Regions from separate parts of the Homo sapiens genome. Here region 2 is linked to region 1. Evidence: fine-mapped expression QTL. A gene starts in region 1. The other region holds a variant in brackets. All regions are shown on one strand. Distances are from middle to middle.

Region 1 (10,832 bases):
GGCTCACACCTGTAATCCCACCACTTTGGGAGGCTGAGGCGGGCGGATCATGAGGTCAGGAGATCGAGACCATCCTGGCTAACACGATGAAACCCCGTCTCTACTAAAAATACAAAAAATTAGCTGGGCACGGTGGCGGGCTCCTGTAGTCCCAGCTACTCGGGAGGCTGAGGCAGGAGAATGGCGTGAACCCAGGAGGCGGAGTTTGCAGTGAGCCGAGATCATGCCACTGCACTCCAGTTTGGGCAACAGAGCGAGACTCCGTCTCAAACAAACAAAAAAAAAAAGTGGGTTATAACAGAGTTTGCAAGTGGGGTCCACTGACTCCTGAGGGCCCCATTACCCTTTCAGGGGCTTGACAAGTTCAAAATTATTTTCCTAGTGATTACTAAGATATAATTTCCTTTTTTCACTGTCTTGACATTTTCACTAATGGTACAAAAGCAATGGTAGGTAAAACTCCCAGCTCATTAGCACAAATTGAGGCAGCACCATCAAACTGTATTTTCGTACTTACAGTAATTTTTCACCTCATTTACCCATAGAGAGAAAAAAGCAACCTTCATATAGTAATATCCTTGACAATGAAGTAACAAAATGTTAATTTTATGAATCCTTGACCTTTGAGTACACATCCTCTTTCTAATTAATATCCTGTGTGTTACATAAGGAAGTAAGATTGCTGTCATGAGGAAAGCACTTGTATGATAGAACTGCAAGCTAAACTAGCCACTTTTTTCACGGAACATCATTTTTACTTAGAAAAACTCATTGACGGACTATACCTATTCACTTTCAGGACAGACATATTTTAAAAAATAAACAAAGTGAGATTGTTGATTAAAACAAAAATAAATAACAGTATTTACTGTCAATGATAAGTTTGAATTTTCAACTAAAACTCAGAATTTTGGAAAATCTATATGCATCGTCAAGAGCTGACAATACTTATAGACTTTTCTAGTGAGATCAGTAGTATTTTTAATGAAGATGATTTTTTGATATTTTATAATCAAATGTTTTAACAACAGGAAGATCTATGTAACTCAATTGGTCAATATTTTTCAAATAACTTATGCACAATTACATGGAATCAGGCATAAGTAAAAATATCTATTCAAGATGCAGTATAGTTAAATGGATTTTTTAATGTAACAAAGTATAAAAAGTTCACTAAAATGATTTCTGATTTCACATTGCAAATAACCTTTAAGAAACTGCGACACAGTGAGTTTTGGTGCAATTGCAAAGAATACCCACAATTATCTCAAAAGAATATAATATACTCCTCTCCTGCTTTCAACTATACATGTGTACAAGACTAAACTTCCTTGCTTCTTTCAAAAACCACGTGATGCAACAGATTGACTGCAGAAGCATACGAGAGAAACTGGCTCTCTCCTATTATGTCAGATATTAAAGATATTTGCAAAAATGCAAAATAGTTACTTTCATAAAAACATATTATCTTACTAACAGGTGTTATTATTTTAATGAATTATATAGATGCATTGAAATTTTCCCAATTTTAATTTCTGAAATGGTAACTATCAATAGATATGACCAACATAAACCAAAGTTATTTAGGATCCTCAATATTTTTTTAAGACTTTAAAGAGGTTTTGAGACCAAAAAGTTTGGAACATTTCACATGAAGTAACAATTACCTGGTTTCATGTCATTTATGTGAGTTCTGCCCTTCATATTAGGGTCAGAAGTATTGCTTCAAAAGATCACAGAAATTACATTTACCTGACATTGGCGGCGTAGAACAATGCAAGGATGTGCCAATACATTTTCTGTAAAGAGACTATATAAAAATAATTTATGTATATGTATGTCTACATAGAGATAAATTAAATTTACAACAGGTATCTTTCTGAAATTATTCTTGCCTGAAGAATCATGCATTATTTTATGTTTTCCATTCTTAAACAAATTAAATAGATCTTTAAAAATGTCTAGAAATGTTTGCAAATGATTCTACCCATAACGAAATTCAATATGAAAAGAATGAAAACCAGATCTGCATACTAGTAAATAAGGGAAACAATACATAATACATAATATTAATGTCTATAGTATAAGATGAAACTAGATCTCTGAATGTTTAATGTGGGAAATGGCACATCAATTAAATGGCATTTAATGCTGCAAATTATTTCTTTCAGAAAATGTCCTAATAACAGAATTCCTATCAGCAGAGTCATTTGATCTTCATGAACCCCATTCTAAAAATGTTTGGTTTTGGTGCACTTAAATTATAAGGTTTAAGTATAAATTTAAGTATAAATCTTAAATTATAAGATTCTTAATGACCATGTTAATTGACTAATATTTATGTATCAAATATTTATTTTGAGAATGTGCCCCACAAAACAATTACAGCTGTGGGTTTCAGGTCTCAGAGTGACATATACATACATGTGCACACATATTTATATGTAATAATAGTCTATCAAATGAATCAAAGCTTTAAGTATAAATATTGAAGCAAAAAACAACTCCAGCAGAATGGAAAACACAGATTTTATTTATATTGACATTAACACCCTCGGGTTTAATTATGCAAATAAGGTGTTTTTCTTCGTTAAAATGTTTAAAATAATGATCATTATGGCATGAAATGTAAGCTTTGTGCAATTCCAATATTTTTGAAAATGGTATTCACTAAGGATCACAATAATCAAGACTAAAGGATTTTCTTAAAATGATCGTTAGATATAAAAAAAAGTAATGCTATCACCAAACGCTGATTATGAACAAAATCTAGATGCTATGTTGCTAAATATCTTGTAAGCATTAGAGTGTTTAGAAAGAAGCCTCCATGCACAATTACTTTTTTGATGGGAGACAGACAGATTACATTTCATTTTATTCTTTGGATAGACCCATGAAAAGAATGAAAACCAGATCTGCAAACAGGTAAGTAAGGGAAACAATATATAATACACAATATTAATATCTACGGTATAAAATGAAACTAGATCACTGTATGTTTGATGTGGGAAATGACACGTCAGTTACATGGCATCATTAAATGCCATGTAATTTTTCTTTCAGAAAATGTCCTATGAAAAAAGTTCTTATCAGCAGAGCCATTTGATCTTCATGAACCCCATTCTAAATTATTATTTTGATGGGAGAGAGATAAGATTACACTTCATTTTATTTTTTGGATAGACCCATGAAAACAGTTACAATACTCATTACAAAATTACTTTGTGTTTATAAAATTGGATGACTAGTCTATCCTTACTGGAAAAACTATCAAATTATATATTTTAAATAATGGTCATTTTTTTTCTGCAAAATATTATTCAAAATTTAAGCTGCTGCTTCAAAGAAACAACCTAAAGGAAGCAATAATAATCATTTAATATTGTAAATTAAAGAAAAACTCTAAATTCAATAAATAAAAGCTGTAAACGTCTTTAGATAAAACATTACCTTGCAAGTCCAATACCAAATCCAGCAAATCTATTCAGCTGTTCTAAAGTAAAAAAAAATAGAAATAAAAAAATAAGATTACTGATAACCAATTACTGACAATTTAGGTTTAGTCTCAAAACAATTTTAAAAAATTTATTTTATTAACCTGCTGTTCATTTAAACCTCAAAGTCAAATTCTGATAGGGGCCAGGTAAATAATTTAAATGAATGAAGGACTCTGCTGGGGTCTGTGGCAAATTGCAAGGTGTAGAGTGTTTAAAGCACAATTACGCTTTCACTCCAATTCATTGTTGCCACATTAGAGTGTGGGCCCAGGGTTTTGAAGTTGTAATTTTTTCAAAAAAAGATATTCTCATTTTATATAAAAGCTTCCAATTTTAAAGTCCTGGACAACTATTTCAAAAACTGTTAACACATTGTCTTGGCCTAATGAAACAAATATCCGGACAGAACCTAAGGGCTACCAGTTTTCAGCTTCTGATTCCAATCAAATAAAAAATTTTCCATGGTTGGCCGCAGCTGATATTCCACCTGCGACTTTACCTCTTATGCTGTAAAACTAGTTATTCACTGTTACTGACGGAGAGCACTTTATTAAACCAATAACTACAAGTAAAGCACCTCTAAATTATTAACTTGAAAGGGTACTTAGGGATAACCAAAATGGGTAAATACAGCTCTCCCCCATCTCTTCAAGTTTTAAATAGTTTGAGGCTAGCTGTTTAATTAATTGGAGTAGGTTACTGGATACCTAAATGCTACTACAGATGGTATGTCTGTTATGTTACTGGAAAAGTTCACAGCTGGGAACATTCCTATGCATATGTCAAAAGAGAAAAGCCTTTCTTCTTGACTAAACTCAAAGTCATAGTGGTGAACTATTACAACCCCAGGGGACCAGACATCAAATTCTAACTATAATACAATATTCACAAGTTACAATTCTTTCTCTCCTCTTCTCTTTCAAGTGAAGCAACTGCCCTCACTATTCCCTTTCAATCAGAACAAGGCCACCTAAGCATGTTCCTGGGAAATTACGCAGTTTACCCTAGAAAAATGTATAAGCTAAATAGAAAGCTTCTTTTACCCACCTACGGTACTTTTACCTTAGATTTTACCTTTTTTTGTTTGTTTTGAGACGGAGTCTCGCTCTGTCGCCCAGGCTGGAGTGCAGTGACGCGATCTCGGCTCACTGCAAGCTCCGCCTCCCGGGTTCACGCCATTCTCCTGCCTCAGCCTCCCGAGTAGCTGGGACTACAGGCATCCGCCACCACGCCCGGCTAATTTTTTCTATTTTTTAGTGGAGACGGGGTTTCATCGTGTTAGCCAGGATGGTCTCGATCTCCTGACCTCGTGATCCGCCCGCCTTGGCCTCCCAAAGTGCTAGGATTACAGGCGTGAGCCACCACGCCCGGCCTTACCCATTTTGTATGTATAGATCATCCCCAAATAGCAACAGAAAATGCTACTAGCATTTTCTGGAAGGTGTTAGGAAGGTTTAATCTTGTTTACTGTGTAAGTCTCTTAGGTGTCTATCTTTGTTGCAAAATTAACATTCACCCACCTGTTAAGGCTGCAAAATAAACCCCTGCTTGTGTCAAGGAACTCCTCCTCATTGTAACCACCAAAGCATAACTTTAAACCGGGAAGAGTCAAAAAGCTAATTGTATGACAATTAGCTAGGTAAGTCATCTATCTTTCTTCACATCCTCATTTACTCACTAGACATTCGTTAGTCTGTTCTTCTTAGTTAAATATTATTGTACTTCCAAGTCAAAGTCGAGGAAATAAGAATAAAGCTGATTTCTACAATAAATTTAATATTAATACCATTAATCTATTATTCTAACAATTCCAGAAGAATAGAAAGAGGTAGCCATTATTCACATTTTATGAATAAAAAAGGATGTTGAAAATATCTACATCATGCAGTGTTGCAGCTTTTCTGACATCCCATGGAGAATAATTATGTCATGATTCCGAAGTCCTATCTTGAAATTGTATCAGTGTTTCTAACTTTTATATGTAGTTTTTAGGTCAGCAGAAGGAAAGCAGAAAGGAAAATTATAGGAAGGAAACTTTCTAGACTGGGGATCTGAAAAGCAGACAAAACTCCTGTGTTCAAAAAGGAAAAGGAAGGAAACTTTTTTTTTTTAGCCTATGTGTCCCATACAGGATTCTTCTACACATCTTAAAGATGAGAAAACTGAGGGCTCACAGAGGTTAAGTTGTTCAGATTACGAGTGGCACAACCAAGTTTGAACCCAAGTATGCTTATGCTGAAAGGCTTCTCTTTTCAGAACACAAAACTACAAGTAAACACATTAATTAATTAATTAAATCAAGAAAATAGAGCTGCCAAAGTGAATCAGGGAACAGTTAATAATCCAATCTCCTTTTTAACTCAGACCATCAGTTGAGACACCAAAACCTCTAAAAATTCCTGCTATGCACCCCATAGCTAAGGCAGATGTCTTTTTTGGAGTTGATCCAGGAGAATTCGTTTGTGAGGAAGAGGAGGCCAGCCTCAGGGGCAGAGGACCAAAGGAGGGCAAAGGGTGTGGCGCGCGATAGGATGAGAAGGAATAGGAGGCGGGATCCTCTGCGCCGCTTCCGGGGTCTGCAGGCCGCAAGCCGCGGCCCCAGTAACCCCTCATCCCTGTGTCGGTCCCCATGCTTCTCACCACTGCTCTGCCCCTGCACACTGCCGCCGCCGCCACTGGAAAAGGGTTCCTCCGTGGGGCCTTCGTACGGGGTGGAGGTGGTGGGCACGCCGTAGGGCGGGCTCTTCTCGCCCCAGTGCAGGTTGCGGCTGCCGGGGATATCTGGGGGAGTCGTCACCCAGTGGCCCAGGTCCGACCCGGTGCTGAAGGACCTTGCAGGGAAGGCGCCGCCAAAGCCCTGCTCGTCCCGGGCACCACCCCGGTAGCCCAAGCCATCAAATCCGTCCGGGCGCCGCGGATGCATCGCAGCGGGGGCAGGATGACGCGAGCCCGCCCGGAGCCCACCACCACCGGGGCCACCACGACCTAAGCACACACAGCTTCCCGTCGGCCGCCGCCGCGTCAGGGGTAAATTCTGACAACCGGAAGTCACGTTGGAAACCCGGAAGTCTTCGGAGCACGTGATTATAGCCTCTTCCGGCAACCATTAAAGGGCACGGTTGCTAGGGAGACGCGGCGGTAACCTGGACCTTAAAAGTTTGTTGTCGTTAGGGAATAGGTGGGAATATGGTTGTGGGATTAATGAAACACAGTACCAAAGAGATTCCAGAAAGAGAACTGGTGTAGGAATAGGGCCTGCATGGGAGGAGTTCAAAGATGCTTCTTGGAGGGAGCCGATAACCCGCGGGTGGAGCCTACCCGGTGAGATCCCGGCCAGAAATACCCCATGTCACAGCTACGCCCCAGATCTCAGTGTTTTCTCACGGGCCTGGTGCCTCGCCTGCTCCGAGGAAGCTAGTAGAGGTTGGAGTTGTGGAGGGTTAATAACGTTCCACCTAGCTTTGTCTCCCGCACTTGGGGTTTTGGATCAAATCTATTGAGAGATATGGTACCGCCCAGTGAACGCGAAAGTACTGTGGACCACCAGAGCAAGCATTTTAAAAGTTGAAGTGCACGTCGGGGGTGAAAGAAACCCACGTACTCGAATACTGTCCTCCTGGAGTTAGAAATTACGCGTTTTCCTTTTCTAAGGCTGTAAAGAAACTATAGTTTTCTGTCGTATTTTTTTCTGATGTGTCTAAATCACTCAGGGTATTGAAATCCCAGTTATATCGTTCAAAATTGGGACCTCTAATTGAATAACTGAGAGGACTACTGTAGAGCGTCCCCTACTACCTGTTTTCATTAGCTCCACGGGCTCTTGGGCCAGGCTCCCTCCCCAGATCTGAGGAAGACTTCCATGGTTTCATCCTATGTTCCTTCAACTCGTTGGAAGCCCAGGATTCCTAGAGCTTTTCCAAGAGAACTCTGACGTGCAGTTCTCGATCTTCCAGATGCGAACCTTGATTGAGAGTGATAATCAACTTTGTTTTGATTGAACTGACATTTTTTTCTGTGGTTTTATCACTTTTTATTTTTTATGGGTGTATAGTAGGTGTATATATTTATGGGTTACATGAGATATTTTGATAGCGTACATTAAAATGTATAATTAACATTTTTAAATAACGAATTGACATTCTTAAATTTGATTGCGATGCAGCTTGGGCAAAGGTGTTGAGTCTCTTGACTGTATAAAATTTAAATGTCCATATAGTAAATTTTAAAATATATAGTAATCACAATTGAAAGGCAAATCACAAACAGAAAAATGACATTTTAACATGGTTTAAACAATGGAACAGTAGCTTTAATGTACAAAGAGTTCATACCAATGAATAAAGGCAAATCAGAAATATGAGCAAAGGACATGTAGAGGCAATTCATACAAAAAAAGGAAGTGTAAATAGATAATATCATATAAAAAGTCCTTTACTAATTGAAAAAAGGTAAATCTTAATTATCTTTCACGTATTAAGGTGTTTAAAAGGGAAAATGCACATTGTCTTTCCAGGTGAGAAGAAAGTAGCTTTCATTAATTTCTGAAGTGATATAAAACATAACTTTCTGATGGAGAGCAGTTTGGCACTATGTATCAAAAACTGTAAAAATAACCATATTTTTTGACTCCAAAATCTTAGAAAACAAATATAGGGGTTTTTTACATGTTTCTGGCATGGATAACATACATATGTTTATGGCATGCTTGCTCATAATAGGAAAAAAATAAGCAGGAATGCAAATATCAAATAATTATTATTGATTAATAATTTATTATTTAAAGTGTATATCCATACAGTTGTTTAACAAAAATATATTTATTAAGCACCTATCTCGTGTCAGATACTATTTTAAGCAATAAGGATAGAATGATAAATAAGCCAGACAAGGTGCTTGCATTGTTAGAACTGACATTCTAGTTTAGGGAGACAAAGAACAGATAAATATATCCTGTCAAATATAGTGCAATGTCAAATAATGACATGATTGTATTAAAAAAGCCTAAGTGAGCAATAAAGGAAGCTTTTTTTTTTTTTTTTTAGAATAAGGAAGTCCTCTCTGAAGAAGTGACCTTTGAGCAGAGAACTGAATGAAGTGAGGGAGTGAGCCATTTGTGAATATGTGGGAGAAGTTTTCCAGGCAGAGCTGAGCAAGAGAAACGCCCCGATAGCAAACTAGGTAGCCAGTGAGAAAGGGTGAAAGTGATAGGAAATGAGAGCTGAAAGGAGGCTAGGTGCCAGATCTTGCAAAGCCTTGTCGGTGGTGAACAAAATTTAGGTTTTTTGAGAGTAGAGGAGTAATGTGACTGTATTGATGTTTTATAGGAATCCACCTGGCTCTGTATGGGGAAGAGTAAAGGCTTCCACCTACTAAAGGCAAGCAGCTGAGGCAAAAAATAGTAATAATTTCATCTCGAGTGATAGTGTAATGGAGATGAGAAGGGTTTAGAGTGAAGATGTTTATAGATTACATTAGAGATGAGTATTAAATGACATGAAAATATTCATGTTCAATTTAAAACATGTACAGTATGAACTTACCTTTTAAAAATTCTACTAAAGATACACAATAGAAGAATGTGCTAAAATGATAGTATTATGTCTGAGCACGGGCTTGCATAGTTTCACTTTTTATTTAATTGCTCTAAAAACTTAGCTTTTTTTTGTAAGAAGAAAAATTATTTTAGAAAAAAATTAGAGCAAATTTGGTTATGGGCAGACACAGCAATAAAGATCTTTCTAGATTACTAAATCTGTTCATATCATTTAATCAGTAGTCTCTAGAGCACTATGAAAGCTCTATCATCCTGTATTTCTCCAAAATATTTCTAAAATAATTATGCTGAAATCGTCCAGAGTTTATTGCTTCAAACTAGTTTGAGAAACTCATAACACAGGAATTAAAACATGAATTTATAAAGTGGCCAATGCATTTTATGAAAACAACAGAATGTTTGTATTAGTTTCTATTGTGGCACAATGAATTACCCCCATAACAAATTGGGCAGCTTAAAACAACATTTAATATCTCATAGTTTCTGTAATTTAAAAATTTCAGAGTGGCTTCGCTGGATAGTTCTGCCTTAGGTTTCCCATGAGGTTCTAGTTAAGACTTCTACTTGGAATGCAGTCATTTTAGACATGACTGAGTTTGATTAGGGCTGGAGGATCCCCTTCTAAGATCTCTTACTCAGACAGCTATAGAAAGAATGTCTTTATTTCTTGCTGATTGCTGTTAATGAGGTTTCAATTCCTTGCCACATGAAGTTCATAGAACATCTTGAATGTCCTTATGACTTAACAGCTGGGAGACAGACAGCAAGGGGGAAACACAATGTCGTTTATGACCTAATTACACCTCATCACTTCTGCCATGTTCTATTTTTTTGGAAGAGAGTCACTAAGTCCAACCCTGCACTTAAAGGGGAAGAGGATTTGACTCTATCTTTTAAAGGGAGGATTATCAAACAATAGCATTTATATCATTAAAATGACTAAAATATTAAATCACTATATAACAATTAATGGGTGGAGGATATTATTAGGCACCAAAACTAATAATAAGGAAATTTTTAGCCCAAATATTAACAGAATAATATAGTTTTTTACTTTGTTCCTTAGTAAATAAAGGATTAATTTTCCTTGAAAATAATATGATAGAAATAGTATAACCACCCCCCAACGGGCTTAATACATATTTTCGAAAGTCCAGTCATTATTATTGTTGAGTTGAAATACAAATGAAAAGTTGCAGATTGTTTCAACAGTTTTCAAGAGTTGGCACAGAATGCTATGGTCCTACCAAACAAAAGTGCCTGTGCAGAGCAAGCAAGTCATTCATTTATGTTAACATTTTGCTCAAAAATTCTGATGCTAAATAAATTCAGCTCACAGGATAAAATAAAAATCACCTATATTTTTTATTCAAGAATTCACTCAGCAACATATATTAAGCACCTACTATGTGTAAACCACTGTATTGGGTACTGTGATGCAACTATACACTATTTTATTTATATCTTTTTTAGAGACAGGGCATCACTGTGTTGCCAAGGCTGGTCTTGAACTGGCTCAAGCAATCTGCCCACCTCGGTCTCCCAAAGTGCTGGGATTACAGGAGTGAGCCACTGCGCCCTGCCTGGTAAGTATTTTAAAAGGTGAAATTTAGTAATATTTTAAATATTTTACATGTAAAATAACTTGAAATAAGCAATTTTAAAAATATCTTTCAAACAATAGAGGTGTTTTTGTTTTCTTTTGTTTTTGTAAAATGATGTGATATAACAATCCACTATGGTGCATTTGATCCTGATTACATTGTTAGGGAAGTTAGGCA
Region 2 (10,832 bases), 740 kb before region 1:
GCATCTTGTGGCCACTACAGCATGATGTCTCCAAGGTGGTCAATCTCCCTGTACCTTGGCCTGCTCATGTGCAAAATAAGGAGCTTTGAATGATTGTAGGTCTCAGGTCTTTTCTAACTCTAATTACCTAAGGAGACGTGAACATAGGCTAAGGAAATCAGGCGGCAAGTCAAATGAGGAATAAATACTATCTGGTTCTCTCTTCACTTCCTTTCTGCAAAAGAATGTGTGTTTGGGCTAGATTTGTAGTGGGCAGAGACATGAGGCTCTTTAGGCTTAAAATCTGAGAGGACATGGAGGAAGGTAGGATGGTTAAGAGAAAGAAGGCATGGTAGTAAATAAAAATCTGATAGTAGTCATGGCTATTATCCGTTGAACAGGACTACTAATAATTTTATGTAAATGAGCCCTAATCCTTACAACATTTTTGACAATTAGGTATTTTCTTTTTCTTTTCCAATCATTTTTCTCCTCTCCCTCCTCATTACTATCTTCCTCACAAAAATACAAAGAATTTATTGAAAGTCAATGTGCACCAAAAATTTATATACACCATTGTTAATCTTTACATTTGAAGATATTGATAACAATCCTAACTGAATTATTAGGAAACTTTCTGAAGGTTATAATCACACTCAAAGCCTTGCCATTACCCTGCAGTACCCCTTACATCCAATTCCCCAACTCCTTAGCACTTAGTCTCTGCCGATGACACAACAGATGTGGGTTTTGCTAGTAAGTATACATTTATGGAGCTCAAGGATTCTTCCAGTTCTGAAGTTTTAAGCAGTGATAAACTAACAAGGGATCTAGCTGAATGAAGGAACATCAAAGCTAACCCTCTTATTCACTTAATATTTATTAAGGGTGAAAAGAAATGGAAGGAGGGCTAAATAAGATTACTATTATTAAGTTAGTTGATATTAGTTACTTAACATATATTATGTTCCTTAATTCTCACAACGACCTAGAGATAGGTACAATTATCATCCTAGATGAGAAAACTAAAGCATAGCAAGGTTAGATCATGAGCCTGAGGTTACACTTCCAGGACATGACAAAGGGGGCACTTAAATCCAGGTGTGTCAGACTCTGAAACTTCACGGTGTACTTCCAGATCCATTGTTTCATCCAATAAACATTTACTGAGTCAGTCCTATATGCCTATGTGGTTCTAAGGTCTGGGTACACACGCTTTGTCCTGCCCCAGAGCTTAAAATCTAATTAAGGAGGACCATTAAATATATAAGTGATGACTGTTATGAACTGGGGAGTGCAGGGGGTAAAGGAAGATTTTGGCAGAAGGAACCAACTATAGGTGGGAGGGACTGAAGGGGAAGGCCGACCATGCCTCCCAAGGGATATCTAGTGGCAGCTGGGGCTTGAGAATAAGAGTTACCCAGGGGTGTGTGTGTGTGTGTGTGTGTGTGTGTGTGTGTGTGTGTTTACATGCCTATGTGTAATGGAGAAGAAGGTGGGGAGGAAGAAAGAACATTACAGAGCAGAAGAGCCATGGCAATATCCTGAGCTATGCTGATGAGAAACTAGAAGTGTGGTGCACTAGAGTGAAAAGTGATCAAAGGGGAGAGATGTGAAGTGAGTGATGGCACAGGAGAGAGTGGCAGGCCCCAGACCAGGCAGCGTCATGTAGATCTTGTTATGGGTTTTGGATTTTATCCTAAGATTCTTAAAGCAGGACAAGGACATGATGCGATTTATTTATAAGACCATCCCTCTGGATCCTGTACAGACTGTATTTGAGAAAGGCATGAGAAGAGGCAGGGAGGTCAGATAGGAGGTTGGGGCAGTGGTCCGGGGGAGAGAACTGGATGGATTCAAGAGGTGTTTAGGAGCATGGGGTATGACTTGAGGAAGGAGTTGCAATGACATATTTATACATCACACATCACACACACTGACTTTCTCTTCCCACTCATGCTGGAAAAGCCATGAGCCTTAGGGAATCTGTTCCATGAAGGAACACAGAGGGTAAGGAAGAAATGCTTGAAGAAAAAAGAGCACAGGAAAGGGAGTCTGGACGACTGGATCAGCCCTAATAATGTCTTTCTGCTGGGAAGCTGTGTGACCTTAGCAGTCATTTCACCTCTCTGGTCTTTAGCATTCTCATCTTTAAAATGAGAGGAGGACTAGATGCCTCCTAAGACCTCTTCTATATCTAACCTTCTATGATTCAAAAGTCAGCTTTTGATTATGTCTGTGTGGTTGTTCTCTAGTGGATTGATGAGAAATGTTTCAATCTCATGTTAGCATCCTCTTTATTTTATAAGAGGTGAGTGACCTCCCCAGAAGGTATGGATTTCCTGAATGCAAACAAATGTCAATATTAACTTAAGTGAGAAGCAATGTAAAAACAAACAAACAAAATGAACTATTAACACAGTGGAACATTTTTATAATGCCAATGATGCATAATGGGACTTACGTTACTATTAGGATATTTTAATAAATTTGATGAAATTTCAGGAAGCAGTATTGTTTTACTTGAAGTATATCTAGGCTGGGTGCAGTGGCTCACATCTGTAATCCCAGCACTTTGGGAGGCCACAGTGGGAGGATCGCCTGAGGGCAGGAGTTTGAGACCAGCCTGGGCAACATAGCAAGACCCCATATTTCCAAAAAACTTTTAAAAATTAGCTGGGTGTGGTGGCATGCACCTGTGTCCCAGCTACTCAGGAGATGGAGGTGGGAGGATTGCTTAAGCCCAGGAGTTGGAGGCTACAATGAGCCATGATCATGCCATTACACTCCAGCCTGGGTGACAGTGAGACCTTGTCTCAAAAACAAAGAAACAAAAAAGAAATGAAGTACATCTAAATTCTAGGCAATTGCAAGCCATGTTAAAACAGAATTCTGTGTAAATTGTGTTTGAATTCACCCAGCACAGCTTTCTTCATAAGCAAGGTTTTTATACTTATAAGGTAGTAAAAGCTCATTAATACTGTAGTAATTGTAGTTTATGATAATTCAACTAGTGATGAGTCAAAAACATATCTAGTTTTTATTCTCTAAGGAAAATGTATTAATGAACTAATTTTATTAAAATACTTTAAAATTGAAAGAAAATATGGCATTAATATGGGTAAAATTTTAAAAAATTGTACTTCCCATTAATTAGTTAAAAATAAATTTATTTCATTTTGTTTCATTTTGTTTTGGTTACACTTACCAAGTCCTTGGCATTTAGAGATACTTCATCCCACCAGGGGGAGATAAAGTAATATTCACAATTCAGAATTCTCCTGAACATGAACTGATCGCCTCTTTCATCATAGAATGGTTCAAATCCACAAAGTCTAGAGGAATAAAATATAGAGAATAAAATGTCTTTAAAAGCTCAAGTATATTTCATCCAATTTCTGTAGGAATTCAGGACTGTTCTTTTTCACTGCTTCCTGCCATGGAAGCAAGTCTACTCAGCTTAAGTATGCAACTGCCTTATTACAATTCACTATTTATAGTGTAAACACACAATCAAGTCCTCAGGAAGTAGGAATTAATATAAAACCAACTTAGGATTTCTACAAAAAGCTATAATAATAATTATAATTATTGTGTAATAATAATTATTATTATAATTCTTATTACACAGAAGAACAATAATAATAATAGCTAACATTATAGACATTATGCTAAAGCCTTTCCATGGATTTTTTGACAGGTATTGAGAAGACAGACAGACAGGCAGACAGAGATTGAATAGACTTCCAATTTAGTGTGAAAGGGAAGAGCTGGGATTTTGAGAGTAAAGAAATTAAAAAGTGGAAATTAGAAATTTTCACTTATTTTTATTCTGCCCTATTCTATGAAATCCTCCATAGAAATGAGTAAAGCTTTATGACATTTCCATTCCATTCCAGTTTGGATTTCAGAGTGAACAAAGACAGAAGCTGAAACTATTGTCAGGCAATGACCTTAAAAAATGTATAAGATTAATATAGTCACCAGATGCAGCCAAAGAGATGAGCACCCTCAATTTACCTCATTCTTTGTATCATTTTCTACTATGGAGTCAACTTAAAAATGAATGGGAAAAGTGGGATAAAAGGGACGGAGAACTATCTTGGGCATCTTAACAAGAGAGAAAGGAAAAGCGAGTTGTTTGTGACCACCAAGCATCCACTGTTTACAGACGGGTGGAAGTTCTAAAATCAGTAGGGACCAAGAGGGAACTGCTTAAAAAAGCCCATGGCAGGGCATGTGTTGCATGTGTTCCATTTGAAAAAAAATGAGGGTGGGAGGGAGGATGAATAAAAGACATTTTCCCAAAGGCTTCACTCAAGCTGGCCAGGTTGGTACATAGCATGAAAAATTAAAGTGCATCCTAATACAGTGAGTTTTTAGAAAGAAGCAGTTTCGTATGTCCTTTTACTCACAGAATGTCCCACTGGGAGAATGTTTGTCTCTTCCAGATATTCTGGAGCCAGTGAGAAAAATGCAAGGCCTGACAGTGCAGACCCCTGGGCCAATGTGTTCTCCCTTTCCCTACTGAGCAGTCTGCACAGAGAATCCCGCTCCTGACCCACCTGTGGAAGAGCAGCCTAAGGTGAGACAGGGCACATGTCCTCACCCTGACAACGAGAGAGTCTGACCTTGCCTGCCCTGCCCTGCTCTCCACAACACTAGAAACCTATGGCCTGTTGCAGTTAGTCATGGAGAAATGAGCCAGCTTCCTAGACTTAGTTTAGGAGTTTCCTTATATTTCCCCTTCTGAAAATCTAGAGACAAAAATGACCACTGAAGAGTTATAGTGCTCAAATGCCTTTTCTCTCATTTCATTCCTATCAGTGACTTTTTGCTTTGGTGACAGAGGTAAAAGGTGACAACTTCAAGCCTTAGGGCAGAACTGTAGTGTTGAAAGCTGAAGGAGAGAGTTTGAATCTCTGATGTTATCTGATTTCTGATCAGATCATAAGGCCCAGTCCTGCAGCTTTTGTCTGTAGGGGAAGAGGGTTTAGGTATAAAAGGTAAAGATATGAGAATTCCTGGGAGGAAAAATAGAATGGCCTTCATTTTCAGCCTAATGGCATTCTTAGAAATAGCAAGGCCCCATCAATAGCCTGGTGGTGACAAGCTAGAACTCTTAAGAAGGAAAGAGTGGGCCATGCGCGGTGGGTCACACCTGTAATCCCAGCACTTTGGGAGGCTGAGGCAGGTGGAACAGGAGGTCAGGAGTTTGAGACCAGGCTGGCCAGCATGGTGAAACCCCATCTCTACTAAAAATACAAAAAATTAGCTGGGCATGGTGGCACGTGCTTGTAATCCCAGGTACTCGGGGGGCTGGAGCAGAAGAATTGCTTGAACCCAAGGCGGAGGTTGCAGTGAGCCGAGATCACGCCACTGCACTCTAGCCTGGGAGACAGAGCAAGACTTCATCTCAAAACACACACACACACACACACACAAACACACACACACACACACACACACACACACAAAGAAGCAAAGAGTGAAGTTAAAATGCAGCAGTAGCCACAAGAAGAGGGACAAAAGAGGTAACAGAATTCTTTACACTGATAGGAAGAATCCAATGTCTATTCATGGCTTTATTAAAAAAAAACAGCCCCAGAGTTTATGTACATACAGACAAGTATCAGTAAAGCAAATGCCTCAACATTTGGAAGACAGAAGAAAGAATCTGACTGAAGCTTATAACGTAGCTTCATTGTAAGATTTACTTTCCCAGGAAGCATTAACAAAATGGATCTTTAGTTCTAATTCTTCATTTGGTTACTTCTCTACTCTACTGTGTCTGTCTCCAAGCCACTCTGGTGAAATGAGTGAGATGTTAGAGGTCATAGTCTCAGGTGCCCAGCAGGCCACTAAATGTACATTAAACCAATCTAATAAAGAAGATACAGAGATCAAGTAGCACAACCCACCAGAGAAAATGTGCCAGTCGACCGTGCCAGTGGACTTCACCAATTATTAAAGAACTACAGAGTAAATAAAACGTCCTCAGGCTTAGGGCCTGACAGAAGTTAGCCAA[A/G]AACTAAAGAATATTAGTTGTAAGCAGCACTGTTATTTTCATTTTGGAGGCTACCACTCTTACTTTCAACTAAACCTATTAATTAATTACCTAAAGTGTATAAAGATAAAAGAAATATATAAAATAGTTTGCATAATTTGGTAATGGACTAGGGGATAGGACAGATTTTTAGAACTATCTTCAGGGTTACAATAAAATATTTCTCAAGTAATTATATTTTTCCCTTCATTTTCCCATGTCAGTGATATCATTAAGTTTTATGCATTCCACATTCCAATTTTTCTGGGTAAATGTAACTTAATTTCCTACTTCCATCTCTCCAAGTTCTTTCATATCATTAATACTTAATGCCTCCCAGTACATTTCAACAATGTACCTACCAATTGTTGGTACACTGGTACCTAAATTGGGTATATTTATACTTTAGGGGCAAACCTACATTTTGGGGACAAAAACAGGATCTTTATCTCTCCAAATTCCTCTCAAGCTTTTCTTTTTCTTTTGTTTTGTTTTGTTTTGTTTTTGTTTTTGAGTCGGAGTTCTATCACCCAGGCTGGAGTGCAGTGGCAAGATCTCAGCTCACTGCAATCTCCGCCTCCTGGGTTCACGCCATTCTCCTGCCTCAGCTTCCCGAGTAGCTGGGACTACAGGCGCCCACTACCACACCCTGCTAATTTTTTATATTTTTAGTAGAGACGGGGTTTCACCACGTTAGCCAGGATGGTCTCGATCTCCTGACCTCATGGATCCACCCGTCTCGGCCTCCCGAAGTGCTGGGATTACAGGTGTGAGCCACTGTGCCCGGCCCCTCTCAAGCTTTTCTAAAGACACAAGGAATTGAGCACACAAAATATCTTTTTGTATTACATATTAGTGGATGGCTATTTTATCAGTTGCTTGTTAAACCTTTCTGTCTTGGCGATCAACCATTGTATATCAGGTAAATTAGAGTTTGCTAACGTGCTTGTGGGCCCTACCACAGTTAGCCCATTCCTAGTCCATATCACCTGGATATTGAATTTTTTAAGATCACTATTAAGTTAAAAACAACTTTAATTAAAAGCATTCTGCTACGGACTGAATTGTATTCCCCCCTCCAACCCCAAAATCCATATGTTGATGCCCCAGCTCCCAATGAGATAGTATTTGGAGATGGAGCCCTTGGGAGGCAATCAGGTTTAGATGAGGTCATGAGAGTGGGGTCTTCCTCATGGGATTAGTCCCCTCATAAGAAAAGAGTACACAGAGCTTGCTTTCTCCTTCTCCCCATCATGTGAGGACACCGTGAGAGGGCGGCCATCTGCAAGCCAAGAGAGGGCCCTCAGCAGAAGCTGACTGTGCTGACACTCTGGTCTTGGACTTCCAGCCCCCGAAAACTGTGAGAAAATAACTTTCTGTTATTTAAGCCACCCAGTCTATATATTTTGTTATGTAAGCCCAGGTAGACTAGTATACCTACTTTCAAACCCTTCAAAATTTCTCTAAATTGGAATATTATGCATTCCAACAACTAACTTTGTAGTACTCTCTAAATGGCAACTAAGTCTCCTTGTTTTGAACTAAACTCTTGAAAGCATCGATATCTTATTTTCTAGTTGTTCTACAGTATTCTTCCATCTCAGACGCTCTTCTATTTGGTTGATTTTTTTCATCACCACCTGCAGTTCCACCATGTCTTTGGCAAATTTCATGAAACTCCTTATTTCTTATTAGACAGGAGCTCAGGAATGGATGTGGGGATACCAGGGATTAAAATATTTCACTCATTTTTTTTCCCAAGAAATTTGTGTAGGGTGTTAAATTTAAGACCCTTGAAAACCTAACAGAAATAAGAAACAAAATTGATAGCTAAAAATGCATTTAAAATATTCCTGATAAGAAATATACCAGTTTGGAATTGCTTAAGAAATTAAATAGTCATTTGCCCATTTAAAAGGACTAAATCTAATAATTTCATATAAGATGCAAATAAGTAAAACAAGAGCAAGTTTACACAGCTGGTCTTGGGCTCATATTCTTTACTAGTGTCAAGTAATAAACTGTTCCCTAAATCTGCTGTATATTACATAGTGGATATAGACATAGGAAAGCCCTGGACAAGAATTCCGGTCTCAAGAAAATTCCAAAATAAAAAGCAATGTTCATTTTCAGGAAATTCTATCACTAACTGCATTTAGTATGTAACAGAAAATCACAAAAAGGCAAAAAGTAATCTTTATGGTTTTTATGAGCATTAGAGGTATCTAGAAAATGTCACAGCAAGGTAAATAGTTTACATAAATATTGCTTTTCTTCACTTACAAGATGTAGGTGATTATTCCTACAGACCACATGTCCACCTCAGGTCCATAGGCACAACCTCTAAGAATTTCAGGTGCTGCAGAAAAAGTGAAAATTGTGTTAAATTAGAGCTTAGTCAATATTTATATTTTAATATCAAGCAATGGGAAAGAAATAAATTCATCAAAACAATTTCTGAACAGTTTTATAACCAATCTTCTCTCCCCAAACCACAGTATGAAGCTATAAATACTTATGTCTATTTTAGTAGGAGAGATTATAGTCTATCTGTTTTGGGATGCATAAAATAACACTATTAACTTTAATATTCTATGTCAGAATATCATGATACTGCTCAAATCAAGTAGATAGAGCTGTATGTATGCTACAAAAGACGCAATACTTCAAAGGGAGTTTTGTACATAGAAAACAAAGAAATGAAAGTTAAGCATAACAAGGGAGAAAAAAGTCACAAGCATGCTGCCTTGAGATCTAGACCTGCTGGGAGCAGGGTGTGTCAGCGAGTGTGTGGGTCTGACAGTGTGCAGGGTGGGAACCAGTGTAGGTGGTGAGGAGGGTTGACAAGTATCTAGTCTAGACGGTTGCAGCAGGAGCTAGGAGGTGTCCTGGCACATGTCCTGGCATTGAGAGATGCATGTAGGTCTCCAGAGAGCAGCTGATCCCAATCAGCTTGAGGTCATGAACTGAGAAAGGGGAACTTATCTGTGCACAGTGAAGCAGCTTGTATTAGTTCTGCCCGCTGTTGTGAAAAAGGAAGGCTTTCTCAGCCATAAAATAGCCCTGGTGTGGAGAATAGCAGTATCTTTTATATTTTTATTACCTTAGATTTGTGAAAATGGGTAATTAACTGGATCCAGGCACTTTCCCTGAGTACTAAGGGTGTTATTTGTTTGCCTAATTAACAACAGAAGAAAAGGGAAAGTAAGAGCCCCACCATCTATGGAGAAATAGAGCTCAGGCCTATTGTCCAGAGTGGCCTTTCTTGATTTTGAACACAAGTGCGGCAGGTGCCAGCAGCGTACTTGAAGAAGGAGCTTCTTGATTAATGCTGATGGCTGCTTGAGGAAGGCCTTGGGGATGAGGACACCATACCATTCTCTGGGATAGGGGTTGGAATGCAAGTAAACAGGATTCTCTGTCCATGCTGGCTGGAAATGTCACATTCAGTGTTGCCTATCAAGATGAGCTCTGGGGCTGGGCACAGTGGCTCACACCTGTAATCCTAGCACTTTGGGAGATCGAGGCAGGTGGATCACCTGAGGTCAGGAGTTTGAGTCCAGCCTGGCCAACATGGTGAAACCCTGTCTCTACTAAAAATACAAAAAAATTAGCCAGGCATGGTGGTAGGTGCCTGTAATCCCAGCTACTCGGGAGGCTGAGGCAGGAGAATAGCTTGAACCCAGGAGGTGGAGGTTGCAGAGATGGCGCCGCTGCACTCCAACCTGGGCAACAGAACAAGACTCTGTCTCAAAAAATAAATAAATAAATAAATAAATAAGTGAGCTCTGGAGGGAGGCTATCCTCATGGGACTGTGGATTTACCATACAGGAAGGAATACTGTGGGCATTCCACTGACCTCTTCCCTAACTATCCCTTAACTCTCATCATGTTCCAATTTCCCTGTAGAAGCTGGGTTACATAAAATATGAGGAGTCTTCAAAAGGTCATGGTAAATGCATATTATAAAAAATTATGCATGAATTTCACAATTTTTTGTACCAAAATAAACTTGTACTAACTTGTCATAACATGTCCAAACAGGATCTAGTCTGAGACACTAAAAAGGCTAAGACTTCAGTTTGAAAAGAGCCTCTATCTGAGAAACATGAATTCTGCTAAAATTGAAGCAAGAACAAACATCAAATTTATGGTAAAGCTTGGGTGGAAGAATGGCGAAATCACTGAGGCTTTATAAAAAGTTTGTGGGGACAATGTTCTAAAGAAATTAACAGTATACAAGTGGATAACTCATTTTAAGAAGGGATAAGACAATGTTGAAGACAAAGCCCACAGTGGCAGATCATCCACATCAATTTTTGAGAAAAAAATAAATCTTGCTCATGGCCTAATTGAAGAGGACTGGCAAGAGCAGAAACAATAGTCAACATCACAGACATCTGTGAGTTCTGCTGACACAATTCTGACTGAAAAATTAAAAGTTGAGCAAAGTTTTCACTCGATGGGTGACAACACTGTTGCATCCAGATCGATGCAGACAAAAATAGAGCTTTCAATGGAAATTTTAAACAAGTGGGATTGAAATCCTGAGCCTGATTCTTCAAACAATTGTTACAGGAGATAAAACATGGCTTCAACAGTATAATTCTGAAGACAAGGCACAATCAAAGCAATGGCTACCAAGAGGTGGAAGTGGTCCAGGCTAAGCAAAAGCAGATTGGTAAAGAGCAAGTGTCATGGCAATGGTTTTTTTGGATGCTCAAGGCATTTTGCCTGTTGACTTTCTGGAGGGCCAAAGAAAAATAACGTGTTTCATATGAGACTGTTTTGAGAGAGTTAGCCAAA

Which allele goes with the higher level. Alleles are on the strand shown, and positions count from the first base shown. SD is a standard deviation of normalised expression in the study named.
With allele A in place of G in region 2, the expression in monocytes of the gene that starts at base 6,533 in region 1 is higher (large effect, 1.6 SD a copy in Fairfax 2014).

Evidence for each region. PIP is the estimated chance that this variant, and not a neighbour inherited with it, causes the effect.
Region 2: its variant is fine-mapped to the expression of SLC25A46 in monocytes (Fairfax 2014, PIP 0.95). The same link has a PIP of 0.9 or more in monocytes after LPS and monocytes after interferon gamma.

The regions. Positions count from the first base shown.
Region 1 is chr5:110,734,708-110,745,539 of GRCh38, reverse strand. SLC25A46 (solute carrier family 25 member 46) reads right to left here and starts at 6,533. Exons shown (of 8, transcript NM_138773.4): 1 at 6,138-6,533; 2 at 3,451-3,493; 3 at 1,753-1,810. The coding sequence starts at 6,420. It also overlaps a transcript of TMEM232 not described here. RefSeq lists enhancers at 4,195-4,694, 4,695-5,196, 6,441-6,510, 6,521-6,650, 6,901-6,950.
Region 2 is chr5:111,470,863-111,481,694 of GRCh38, reverse strand. CAMK4 (calcium/calmodulin dependent protein kinase IV) reads right to left here. Exons shown (of 11, transcript NM_001744.6): 8 at 8,309-8,384; 9 at 3,188-3,314. Among named protein-coding and RNA genes, the nearest start is that of STARD4-AS1, 36 kb to the left of the region's middle. The variant A/G (reference allele first, on the strand shown) is at 6,008.